Linked DNA regions of Homo sapiens. The protein of the gene in region 1 purifies or fractionates together with the protein of each later gene. This does not show direct contact. Each region holds a gene or a part of one and is shown on either strand. Other genes may lie near its edges.

Region 1 (3,819 bases):
TCATTCATCTTTATATTCTCAGAGTGTAGCACAGCCCTAATGTAGAAACAAATGTATGTCAATGAAATGAAAAAACAAATTGTAATGACATCATTTGATTACGTGCCATAAAACAAACTGGATTAGAGCCAAGTATGTCAAAGGTACAGCCCTGGTCATGTCAGCCACTATTGTATTTTTCATGCTCAAGGTCCATTATGTGCTTAAAGACATATTTGAGTCAGGCCAGGCACGGTGGCTCACGCCTGTAATCTCAGCACTTTGGGAGGCCGAGGTTGGTGGATCACGAGGTCAGGAGTTTGAGACCAGCCTGGCCAACATGGTAAAACCCTGTCTCTACTAAAAATACAAAAATTAGCCGGGTGTGGTGGCGGGCGCCTATAATACCTGGGCGACAAGAGCAAGACTCTGTCCCAAAAAAAAAGAAAAAAAAAAAAAAAAGAGAGACATATTTGAGTCGACCAAATGGTGTACTTTGAGAATTCCTGACAGGAAAATACTGACTACTTCTGCTAAGCAACCCTTGTTCAGCTGTATGGCCATTTCCATCTGAGTGCAGCCTGGCTAGTACAGGAAATGGAGCCATGTGGACTGCATGAGAAATGTATGTTCAGTAGCTACTCTCAGGCAGAAATTTCTGAAAGAATTAGTTTTTATGAATCTTAGAAATCCAGGTCTTCTCCTCATATTCTACTTACCTTTTGCAAATCAATGGAAAGCTGCTGAATGAGTGCTTGGAGCTCTTGTTCCTTTTGTTCCAGGGCTGTGATCTTACTTTCTGCACCTGTTTTTGAAGCTATCACATGATCTCTTCATCAAAAGAAAGCAGACAATGAACAAATTTGGATATCTCATCTAATATACAGTCTTCTGCAGGAAAAATACAAATGGTTTCTTCTGTGTCAGGGCTACAAGCATCATTAGCCACATGCAGGTTTTCAACGGAAAAAGCCTCGGCTCTCTCTGAAGCAGGAGCCCAAAGAGAAAAAGTCCACCCTAGTTTAAGAAAGAAATCCTGACCTGCCTTTCCTTAGTCTATTAATACTTTACAAACTAAAACCACACTGAATTGTTCAGCAGGGTGGAACTGTCCTGAGTTTCAGCAGCTGAAGGGGAAAATGGGTTGGAGGTAGGGTGAGGCCTGAGTCCTAGGCAGGTAAGGATGTGTCCAGAAGCCTTTGCCAGCACCGGAATCAGAAAGTGGTGTAATGAACAATGGGGAAAGGTGGGCAGGCTATAGCCAGAACTACACTAACACCTCTTCCCAAGGGCCCCACAGACCAAGCAAGAACCTCTGCTCTTCCAGCGTTGAGTAGTGTCTCTGCAATTCTTCTAGCTTCTGGCTTAAGTCTGATGACATCTGATTGGAGTTCATCAACTCCTCCTGGGTACGACTAAGTTCTCTGGTTCGTGCCTCCAATTCTTGTTCCATTTTCCCTAGACTTTCTTCTTTTTTTAAAAGCTGACACAAAAATACAAAGTTTCATTGGGCTATGCTAAGAAAAATACACTTAAGATCAGGCATGCTGGCTCACGCCTGTAATCCCAACACTTTGGGAGGCTGAGGCAGGTGGATCACTTGAGGTCAGGAGTTTGAGACCAGCCTTGCTGACATGGCAAAACCCTATCTCTACTAAAAATACAAACATTAGCCGGGCGTGGTGGCGGGTGCCTGTAATCCCAGCTACTCGGGAGGCTGAGGCGGGAGAATCACTTGAACCCGGGAGGTGGAGGTTGCAATTAGCCAAGATCGCGCCACTGCACTCCAGCCTGGGTGACAGAGCTAGGCTCCATCTCAAAAAAAAAAAAGAAGTAAAAAAGAAAAATACACTTAAATCTCGGCTGGATACGGTGGCTCACGCCTGTAATCCCACCATTTTGGGAGGTTGAGGCATGCATATCGTTTAAGCCCAGGAGTTTGAGAGCAGCCTGGGTAACATGGCGAAACACCACCTCTACAAAAAATACAAAAATTAGCCGGGCATGGTAGTGCGCCTGTAGTCCCAGCTACTCGGGAGGCTTAGGTGGAAGAATCCCTTGAGTCTGGGAGGTCGAGGCTGCAGTGGGCCATGATCATGCCACTGCACTCCAGCTTGGGTGACAGAGTGAGACTCTATCTCAAAAAAAAAAAAAAAAAGAAAGAAAGAAAGGAAAGAAAAAAAAAAATCTAAGCTTGTCAGGCATGGTGGCACACACCTACAGTACATGCTTACAGTTCCAGTTACTTGGGAGGCTAAAGTGGGAGGACAGCTTGAGCCCACGAATTTGAGGCTGCAGTGTGCTATGATCGCACCTGTGAGTAGCCATTATACTCCAGCCTGGGCAACACCGTGAGACTCCATCTATTTAAAAAAAAAAATGTGGACCAATAGCCAAATTTCTATAACATTTTTGTGGGCTTATAAGAGAATTTATATACCCAGTAGTTAAAAACAAAACAAAACAAAACAAAACAAAACCCAAAACAAAACAGAAAAAGAACATTTTAAACAGAACTTTTCTATTTTAATAAATTTAAAAACATACAAATATGATTAATATCAAATATGATTAATATCACATATTACTGGTGTATGTTTATCAGCAATTAGAGAGTGATGACTAGTAAAATCAGAGTGAATAATCATCTATTCAGTATTTAGCTACTAAAACAAAAATGCATACCATGTGCTTTATTTTACTTAGTTCCTGCTGCTGGAACCCCTCTAATTCATCCATTTCATCTCTCCTTTGGAAAAGATTCATACTCTGGTTCTTCATTTCCTGTAACTGGGCTGTCAGAATATTTTTCTCCTATTTGAAAGAAGAAGACATCAACTCAGGCAACGAAAGCATTAGAAATCTGTATTACGAAAGTGAAAATCTTTTCTTTTTTAAAATTTTTGTCTTTAGAGACAGAGTCTCACTAGTTGCCCAGGCTGGCCTTGAACTCCTGGGCTCATGCAATCCTCCCGCCTTGGCCTCCCAAAGTGCTAAGATTACAGACATGAGCCACCACACCCGGCCTGAAAGTGGAATTCTTAATAAAGGAAAAATCTTCAGGAAATCTCATGCCAGTGGACAATGATGCATTGATAATGGAAAGCATTACAGAAATATGGCATTATTTACAAATTCTTTAATTGAATTAATCCTTTAACTAGAGAATTTAATTCTTTATTTAAAAATAAATGTGTTTTAAATAATTGTGAAAAAGGGGAATAAAAGCAACAATTACGTAGAACTTTTTTTTTTTTTTGGTAGAGACAGGATCTTGCTCTGTTATCCAGGCTGATCTTGAACTCCTGGCCTCAAGACATTCTCCTGCCTCAGCCTCTCAAAGTGTTGATAGATATGAGCCATCGTGCATGGCCTATGTAGAACTTTAAAGTTCTTACATCTGTTTAGCAAGTCCAGATATATATTTTATGTGTCTACTCTTTCGTCGTTGTTGTTTGTTTTTTGACACAGAGTCTCACTCTGTTGCCCAGGTTGGTTTGCAGTGGTGAGATCTCAGCTTACTGCATCCTCTGCCTCCCAGGTTGAAGTGATTTTCATGCCTCAGCTTCCTGAGTACCTGAGACTACAGGCATGCACCACCATGCCCGGCTAATTTTTCTACTTTTAGCAGAGATGAGGTTTCACCATGTTTGCCAGGCTGGTCTCGAACTCCTGACTTCAGGTGATCCACCCACCTCTGCTTCCCAAAGTGCTGGGATTACAGGCGTAAGCCACTGTGCCCAGCCTTATTTTACATGTCTATTCTTAGTGACACACTGAACTGGCTGAAAAACATGAGTAACCAGTAAGATTGAATGCCTGAAAAAAATTAAATGCACG
Region 2 (3,819 bases), on another chromosome or scaffold:
GTTTTGCCATTAAAAAAAAAAAAAAAAAAAAAAAGGGCTAATACACTCCAAACGCTAGCGAAATTTTCCTGGCAGATTTTTCTTATTGAGCCTGATAAGCAATAAATGGACTAAATTAGTTTAATTCAGTGCATTCTGCTTTCAGCCATCAACAAATGCCAATTAGACTTTGCTTTTTCCAGAGACAACCACTATGTGGGTTTTCAGTTAACATCTCCTGATTACACTAACTAGCGGGGCTGCTGAATTCTAAATAAAGGTTTAGTGCCTGGTATGAGTATAAGGGAAAGGGACAGCGTTGACAGATGCCTACAAAAAATCTTAGGCATTTGCAGATGACACCCTTGACAGAATAGACATATCAACAAAGTTATACCAAAGGCAAAATTTTAAAAATTCCGGACCTTAAATGTTATCTATAGCAGGCATTTAAAAGGACCACATGGTACCTCAAACACAGGAAGGGAGGATATGCAGAGATGAGAGGAAGGTATGTTGGATAAGCTCTGAAAACGCATTGAAGAGTAAGGGGAAGCTGATTTTATTTGGCTATCTTGTCTGGACAACCAACCTGCTGGTTACCTTACTGGTAAAAATGAAAACTATTGTGCAGAGGGTTTCTGTAAGGATTAATAACACACCCAAACTGAAGGGTATCATCTGCGGAATGCAGAGCTTCATATTGCCTATTTTCATGATCCTTATATAGTTAAGTGAAAACCATCTCCAAATTTCTACGCAATAGTAGTAAAACTTTACCAGGACATTCATGAAATATACATAAAACACAATCAAGACAGTCTCCCCAAGAATTACCAGGATATCCTTCTAAACTGGTCCGCACATTTTCCACAGAAGGATAGATCTAAAAATAAGAGGAAAACAATAAAACTCGGAATGTACCATGTTGAAGAAAAGGAATGATAATCAGCTTTTAAGGAAATGAAAATCTGTTAAAAATACTTTTAAATTAGAAAATATGCTTTAAATTTTTAAAAGTTCTCATCTTATGAAAAAAATGAACTAGTAATTAAACAACAGGAACCATATTTGATGTAAAATTATACTTCAATTGGAGTATTTTTTCCTTTGAAATTCAAGTTAACATTGAATGGAAAATTAATTATTAATTCACAGTTCTCTAAATAATTAAAATGCCCATAATTCTGCTGGCTGTGCTACATCAAATATTTTCTACCTTGGTTCAACAACCTGAAAGAAAGGATAGAAAAATCACAGGCCAGTCTGTGTCTGCAATGGAGCTCCTGAACGAATCGGCAAGCTCTTAGCACTGGATATTAAGGCAAAGGCAACTTGATTACAAATGACGATGCTAATGTACTGCTCTTTCCGCACCCCGCCCCCGCCACGCCAAAAAAAAAAAAAGAATCACAGAATAAAACATCTCTCCATTACAAAGAGGACCAATTTTCAATTCTTCTCCTGTGTAGAGAATAAAAGTAAACTACCTCAATGAGGACGAGAACTCACCAAGTAAAGAGGAACAGAGCTTTTTCCTGGAGTCTTGCTTTCCTTCCCCAGTGTCAGCATGCTCTCTTTAAACTCAGAACATAACCACTTTGATTCATCGGCTCCCAAGGAGCCAACGCTTGAAAACTGACCTACGACAGGCCAGGACTCTGCGTTAGGCATGGATGAGGCATGGTCTTTCAGAAGCTGGGAAAGAATAAAAGTGAATGTTAAAGTGACTCAAATAATCTTAACAGAAATGCTGCAATATTTGAAAACAGTTTTCTGCTCTTGGAAAGCCTAATTAACAAGAAAAGCTGAAAATACTAGTGATCAATTTCATACCCACACATACATACTTCTTCTTTGGGAAATTTTTTTTAAATACTAAAAACATATTTTTAATGGAGTAGATGGACAGAAGTTCTCCTTTCCAAAATTATTTGATTTGTACTAAAAGCAAAAACAGGTTTAAAAAGGCCCATTTCAGAAGAAATTTCAGATAAACCACCAACTTGTCATATGAAATTAGATTTTTTTTACTTGAAATCACAAGTGTTTAATGCAGCTTTGATGCTATGAAATATGTATTTGGTCTTCATCCCTGTTTCCTGGCATGCAACTACTAAAATCCTTGGGATCTCCAATGTGAAGTCTTTCTGTATGTTAATGAGACTGATGGCTGGCAGACCCTAGGCAACTTCAGGATGGGGGCTGGTCACGATAAAGACCAAGGCATGATTAGAAGATTGGGACTTTTGGCACAACCCCCCATCCTCCAGGGATAGGAGGGGCTAAAGGTTGAGCTGATCAGCAATGGCCAGTGATGTAATCAACCATGCCTATGTAATGAAGCCTCCATTAAAAACCCAAAAGGACAGGGTTTAGGGAGCTTTCCGACAGCTGAACACCTGCGGGCTGCTGGACAGTGGTGGTGCATCCAGAGAGGGCATGAAAGCTCTGTGCCCCTTCCCCTATACCTTGCTCTATGCATCTCTTCATCTGTATCCTTTATAATAAAGCAGTAAATGTTAAGTGTTTCCCTGAGTTCAGCGAGCTGCTCTAGCAAATGAAGCCCAAAGAGAGGGTCATGGGAACCTCAACTTGAAGCTGGTCAGTCAGAAGTTCTGGAGGCCCAGACTTGCAACTGGTGTCTGAGGGAGAGGGGCAGTCTTGTGGGATGGAGCCCTCAATCTATGGGATCTGAGGCTACCCCCATATTTCTTTAAAAAAAATGTATTTTTTCAATTATTTTTTCCCTACTATTCCCCAACTCCTTCCCCACTTCCTACTTAGACCTTTAGAAATACAATATAACCTTTTACCTTTCCTTTACTAGACACTCCCTACAGGGCAAGTTCATCTATGTGCTTAGAAGCTCCAGAGCAGAACTTTCTCCCACCAGGGGACTGCCTCGAGGGACAGCAGTAAATTTACAACCCAAAGTATGCCCACTAAGAAACTCTCCCACCTGGAGAGTTTCAGCCATCTTTACAACCTAGTTCTGCCCAGGAAGAGACCAAATGGACTGCCTGGTAGAGAAGGCAGAAAGTAAGGAAGTATCCACCTGCTTGCTTCCTCCTCTGCGTGCCATTCATGCTAGGCCCCTTTTAAAAGTGTCCACTTTCTGCTCCAAGAGCAAAGCAGTATCCTTAAGACAGGAAGCCTGTACTTATTCCTCTAAGCCAGCTTTGGAATAAAAAATAACTTTTTTTATACCATCACTTTCTTTATATCATCACTTTCTTTAAAGTCACTTTCTTTATACATCTCCAGGAAGACAGCATAAGAACTGAAGTGAATTAGAGGACACCCAGCTGGTGTCCCCTGCTTAGTGTATGAGGAAAACCCCACACATATTTGGTCACAGTTTTCTGTGTTGACTGTTGTAGTGTGAGAGCAGAGGAAACAAAGTGAGTTTTTTGCTACCAACACTTAAACAATACCTAGAAGGATTACATATTTTGACTCCTATCATTTGAAAGAGGCTTAACAGTCATAGTTTAACACTTGAGCTCCAGGCAGCTGTGATGGTCTAAACATAAAAGAGAATATTTACATACACATACCAGCTAAAACACTGCAGAAGACTGATCTGCATTTCCTGCTTTGATAATTATGCAAAGCTGCAGAAACAATTAAGAAAACATTTGGAAACTGTATCCACTTAAATATGTACTGAATGCCTACCTAGAGGGCTGGAGAGAGCAGAAAAATAAACTGTAGCTCATCTGACTGACGTTTTGTTTAATTTAATATGTATTATTTTCCTTAACACAGGTTAGGCATTAATACTTACACATACACTTCCCAAAAAGCCCAAAGTTTCCATGTCCACCTTGGGTACAG

The links.
Region 2: the proteins of GOLGA1 (region 1) and TDP1 fractionate together in Homo sapiens (co-fractionation; one large-scale study listed by BioGRID). This does not show direct contact.

Annotation. Positions count from the first base shown.
Region 1 is NC_000009.12:124,920,431-124,924,249, forward strand, and holds part of GOLGA1 (golgin subfamily A member 1), read right to left. Parts: intron 2,794-3,819; coding exon 2,665-2,793; intron 1,463-2,664; coding exon 1,293-1,462; intron 811-1,292; coding exon 699-810; intron 1-698. UniProt on the Homo sapiens protein: Involved in vesicular trafficking at the Golgi apparatus level. Involved in endosome-to-Golgi trafficking. Mechanistically, captures transport vesicles arriving from endosomes via the protein TBC1D23.
Region 2 is NC_000014.9:89,986,763-89,990,581, reverse strand, and holds part of TDP1 (tyrosyl-DNA phosphodiesterase 1), read right to left. Parts: intron 1,678-3,819; coding exon 1,492-1,677; intron 866-1,491; coding exon 817-865; intron 1-816. UniProt on the Homo sapiens protein: DNA repair enzyme that can remove a variety of covalent adducts from DNA through hydrolysis of a 3'-phosphodiester bond, giving rise to DNA with a free 3' phosphate.